Regions from separate parts of the Homo sapiens genome. Here region 1 is linked to region 2. The links come from fine-mapping of genetic effects on gene expression. A gene starts in region 2. The other region holds a variant in brackets. All regions are shown on one strand. Distances are between the middles of the regions.

Region 1 (3,016 bases), 27 kb after region 2:
AAAACTGGTGCAGGATATATGAGCACTCACTGTACTAGCTTCTGAATTTTTCTGCAAATCTAAAACTATACTAAAAAAATTAAATTTATTTTAAAATATGGCAGTTCATGAATCACATCAAAATGGAAATTGTGCCAGGCACGGTGGCTCACCCCTGTAATCCCAGCACTTTGGGAGGCTGAGGTAGGCGGATCACTTGAGGTCAGGAGTTCAAGACCAGCCTGGCCAACATGGTGAAACCCTGTCTCTACTAAAAATACAAAAAATAGCCAGGTACGGCGGAATACACCTGTAATCCCAGCTACTTGGGAGATTGAGTTAGGATAATTGCTTGAATCCAGGCGGCGGAGGTTGCAATGAAGTGAGATCACACCTCTGCACTCCAGCCTGGCTGACAAAGAGAGACTCTGTCTCAAAAAAAAAAAAAAAAAAAGGAAATTGTAATCCTGTAAGAAAGGTGGTACTCAGTTCTTGATTGTCATGTGTCTATAGTAAAGTGCCAGAACTAAAGGGACACATAGGTGTTAGTTTGGGTCTGCCCAGATGCAGAGCCTGAGCGGGGACTTGGGTACAGTTTGTTCGAGAGGAGATCCAAAGATGCAGGCATGTGGTTGGGTGTGGTGGCTCACGCCTGTAACCCCAGCATTTTGAGAGGCTAAGGCAGGCGGATGACCTGAGGTCAGAAATTCTAGACGAGCCTGGCCAACATAGAGTGAAATTCCGTCTCTACTAAAAAGTACAAAAATTATCTGGGTGTGGTGGTGCACATCCGTAGTTTCAGCTACTTGGGAAGCTGAGGCAGGAGAATCCCTTGAACCCGGAAGGTGCAGGTTGCAGTGAGCCAAGTTTGTGCCACTGCACTCCAGCCTGAGTAACAGAGCAAGACTCCGTCTCTCAAAACAAAACAAAACAGAAAAAACAAAGATGAAGGCATGAGAGCTTTGAGAGACAGAGGCAGGGAAAGGGAAAAGCTGACAGAAGGGTGGGAATGTGAGGTCAGGGCTGGTGGCAGCGGAAACTCAATCCCTTTGAAACCTCTAAGAAGCATGTAGATGACCTCCCAGAGTTGTCCACCCACAGAGAGGATCTTGCTTTATCACCCAACCCTGGCCTCCACCACTTGAGGGTGCCCCAGGGGAGTGAACTGCCCTCCACTTCCGGGCTGTCCTTACGCAAAGGCTGAGCAACTGTCTGTGTGCCTTGGAGAAGGACTTCACAGATGACCCAGTGTGGATGCTGGTGGTGCAGCATGAGTCTGAACTTGCACAGAGTTTGGTTCTATTTTTTTTTTTTCCCAAGCCAAACTGTATGCAGCTTTATTAAAGATACTTTCCATAAACAATCATGGTATTTCAGGCAGGACATGGGCAGACAATCGTTAACAGTATACAACAACTTTCAAACTCTCTTCTTCAATGGACTACCAGAAATCAGAAAGCCACTATAAAACCCAATGAAGTCTTCATCTCATGCTCTGAATAGGGAAAGTTTGGAGTGAGGGTTGACATTTCACATTTAGCATGTTGTTTAACAACTTTTCACAAGCCGACCCTGACTTTCAGAAAGTGAAATGAAAATGGTAGAATTTATCTGAAGATCCACAATCTAGAAATGGAACCACTGCTCTTTTGACAGGTGCCATCTCAGTGGCATCACTGGAAAGTCCAGATTGCCTGACACACTGGTAACCAATGATTGAGGGTCAGGTCCCAGCAGATGTCTGGGTTTAAGGGAGTTAATTTTCTGCTGAAAGATGGAAAGGGAGAAGAGGACATAAAAACGAATTTGTTTTCCATACCACAAGGCTTTTGTGCCAAGGTGGTCATGTGTGTCAAAGTCAGGGAATCCCTCCTCCTGGGAGCCAAGAGGAAGTCTCTCAAAACTGGAAGGGAAAGGTGTTTTCCCCACATCGATCCAGCTTCGGAGAC[T/A]TTCTATTAGTGACACATGCCCCGTCCTCCCAAAACAACAATGAAGTGTTCTGTGTTCTAACAACATAGCTTAAAAAAAAAAAGTAAAACAAAATTCTGCATTTTTATAAAACATGGTAAAAAATAGTATTTCAAACTGTACAGTCACCAGAAGTACATAGTTATCAAAAATGCACACACATGGGCTGGGCACGGTGGCTCACGCCTGTAATCCCAGCACTTTGGGAGGCCGAGGCGGGCGGATCACGAGGTCAGGAGATCGAGACCATCTTGGCTAACACGGTGAAACCCCGTCTCTACTAAAAATACAAAAAATTAGCCGGGCGCGGTGGCGGGTGCCTGTAGTTCCAGCTACTCAGGAGGCTGAGGCAGGAGAATGGTGTGAACCCGGGAGGCGGAGCTTGCAGTGAGCCGAGATTGCGCCACTGCACTCCAGCCTGGGCGACAGAGCGAGACTCCATCTCAAAAAAAAAAAAAAAAAAATGCACACACTTCACTTGGCCTCTCCAGCACCTTCAGCTTTCTGTGCCTGCTCTGTCTTGGCATCTCCACTTTCTGCAGGGTTATTCCCCTCCTTGGCAGCATCAGCTTTTCCCTTTTTCCCTTGGGTACCTTCTCTTTCTTCTTTGCAGAGGCCTTTTTAGGCTTGGGCTCTGGCTTTGGAGGAGCAGGTTTAGCAGACAACCTCGCAGATCTTCTCTGTGGTTCGTCCTTCACCTTGGGTTTGTCTCCTTTAGCATCCCCTTCAGCTTTTCTCTTGGGCATGGTGGTATCGGCAGCGACGGTGGCAGGACGTAGGCGCTGGGCGTGGGATGCAGCGGCCCGTGGGCTTGGTCGGTCGGGGGGGGTCGTTCTCGCCTCTTCTTCTTCACCCTGCTCCCTTGGTTCTATTTTATATGTTTAAAAGATCTTGCTTGGACAAAATGGAATGTAGATTTTTGTTACATATCCCTCTTGTGCATACATTTTTTAAAAGGTAAAATACAGGCATAAGAGAGATATTGCAGGCTCAGTTCCAGACTCAATATTGCAATAAAGCAAGTCACACAAAGTTTCAGTTTTCTCAGTATGTATGACAAATATGTTTA
Region 2 (2,500 bases):
AGGACATTCCTAGTTTTTGAGGGCTTCCAGGTGATTCTAATGCATAGCCACGGTTGGAAGCCCTGCGCCTATCTCACAGGTGTGTGGGTCTCTACTCTCTGTGTCCGCTTAGTTGCCAGGAGGCAGCAAGTTAGCCCACGTGTGCAAGATGCTTCCTTCCATACCAGGTAGGAATATTGCTCTCTTAAACTTGGAGTGTGCCTGGGCAGAAGCTCTGGAGCCCAATACCTGCATTTTACAAGTCAGATTGCTGCTTTTTGCTCAGTGCCTGTGTGCCTGCATACATGGGTCTCCTGATACTCAGGCACGGCAGATGACTTTCACCTTTGTTTTAGTGTTTTGCTCACTGCTGCATCTGCAGAGCCTAGAATGGTGCCTGGTACACAGCAGGCTCTCAATGTCTTATTAATGAGTTGCCTTTTCCAAGGCTGAAGTGATCGTGGGTGAATTCCAGAAGACCCTGCATCATTTTTATTTATTTATTTATTTAAGACGGAGTCTCGCTCTGTAACCCAGGCTGGAGTGCAGTGGAGAGATCTCAGCTCACTGCAAGCTCCGCCTCCCCCGTTCAAGCAATTCTTCTGCCTCAGCCTCCAGAGTAGCTGGGATTACAGGCAACCACCACTACGCCCGGCTAATTTTTTTGTATTTTTAGTAGAGACGGGGTTTCACCATGTTGGCCAGGCTGATCTCGAACTCCTGACCTCAAGTGATCCGCCCGCCTCGGCCTGGGATCACAGGCGTGTGCCACCGCGCCCGGCCTAGAGGCAATTTTCTATTTCTGACTTGTTAGGCTAGTCAGAGCGAGACGTCTTTACAGGTTTGGGCCGGCAGCTGGAAAAGGCACACGGCCCCGGGCTCCTCCTCCACCCAGCCCCACCCCTCCTCCGCTGAAGACCAGCCCTAATAAGGCAGCCACCAGAATTAGAACCAGGTCAAGTGCACTCCGAGCAGGACAGTAGGCAGATCCTATCTGGCGCATGCGAACGCTTCTGTGCCAGTTCCTTGAAGAGCAGGCGCAGACTCAAGGCTGTTGCTTCCGCCCTTACTCCCCGCCGCTCGTCCCTGGGCGGGGCGAAGGCTGGGCTGGGGGAAGAGGCGTGGCGGCGCTGTGCGCGTGCACAAAAGAGAGCTGAGGGGCGGGGGCGCTGCGGCACAGCTGGTTTGAGCAACTGAACTGGAAACAAGATGCAGGTGAGCTAGGACGGGTCTCGGGTCTGGGGGCTGCGGCCCGTTCCTTTGTCTCGTTAGGCCCGGGCGGGCAGTGGACGCCCGCCCTGGGGGAAGCTCCGGCGCCGCAGGCACGAGGGAGGCCCGGCGCGTCCAGGCCCTGCGCAGGCGCAGTGCGGGAGGCGGGCGTGGTCCCACCAGGACCCACGGCCTGGGCGTCCCCGCCTCGGTGTGCCGGGTCCCCCAAACCTCGTCCTCCGGGACTATGTCTTCTCGCGGTCTCTACCCACCCGGGCCTGTGAAGGTCTTGCCGGATCCCGCCTAACAAAAGTTACCTCCTCTCCTGAACTCCCCTAAGGCACACCTGGGCAGAGGTGTTAGGAAGCGGAGGGTCCGGCCTGGGGTCTTCCGCACGTAAAGCAGCGCCACAGCCGGTGTTCCTGGCTCCACTGAGAGCCAGGTGAGGGCTTAGTTACACCCTCTTCCCCCGAGCCCTGGGATCCGCTTGGGGCGTGTTCCCTATCTGACCGCTCGGGTTCCAGAGCTCCCCGCGAGGGTCCCTCTGTTTCGTCCTTTTTTTTTTTTTTATTAAAATAGGTAAAATAAATTATTTTTCTGTAGCTGCAATTTACTAGCGGAATTTGGTTAAAGCCTAAGGAGAATGAATGAAAACACCATGGAAATGGGCACTATTGTGGGTGAAAACCTATGCCAACTAAATTTTGTCACTGTCCAAAGATCCCGCAGTGGTCAGAAATTCTAATCTCTGCTTAGTGGCAGATGGAGAGGAGAGGGTGCGGGTTTTGCTGGGGAGGGAGGCATTAGGGGCTGGAGGGGAGGGCGTGTCTGCCAGGAGCCAGACACTGTTTTTTTTTTTTTTGAGACCGGGTCTTGCTCTGTTGCCCAGGCTGGAGTGCAGTGGCTCTGTCACAGCTCACTGCAACCTCGACCTCCCGGGGCTAAGCCATCCTCCCTTGTCAGCCTCCGGAGTAGCTGGGACCACAGGCGTGCACCCACCACTCTGGGCTAATTTTTTGTGCAGATGGGGTCTCCCTATGTTGCCCAGCCTCAGCCTCCCAAAGTGTTGGGATTACAGGATGAGCCACCGCACCTGGCCTAGACACTCTTAAATGGTGAAGTGGTAGCTTGAGGGCTGCCCTGGCCTCCTTTGCATTCCCTGTCCTTCAGGTCCCTTGAGGCCTTCCCTGACCACCCTGTAGAAAGGATTCTGCTCTTTTTGTTTGTTTGTTTGTTTGTTTCTTTTTGAGACAGAGTCTTGCTCTGTCGCCCAGGCTGGAGTGCAGTGGCGCGACCTCGGCTCACTGCAAGC

Evidence for each region. PIP is the estimated chance that this variant, and not a neighbour inherited with it, causes the effect.
Region 1: its variant is the best candidate, but not a certain one, in a credible set for the expression of PDCL3 in cerebellum (GTEx, PIP 0.67).

What each region holds. Positions count from the first base shown.
Region 1 is chr2:100,588,632-100,591,647 of GRCh38, forward strand. It overlaps the pseudogene HMGN2P22. Among named protein-coding and RNA genes, the nearest start is that of LINC01849, 14 kb to the right of the region's middle. The variant T/A (reference allele first, on the strand shown) is at 1,929.
Region 2 is chr2:100,561,880-100,564,379 of GRCh38, forward strand. It overlaps PDCL3 (phosducin like 3), which reads left to right and starts at 1,114. Exons shown (of 6, transcript NM_024065.5): 1 at 1,114-1,194. The coding sequence starts at 1,189. RefSeq lists an enhancer at 1-655 and a silencer at 1,101-1,440.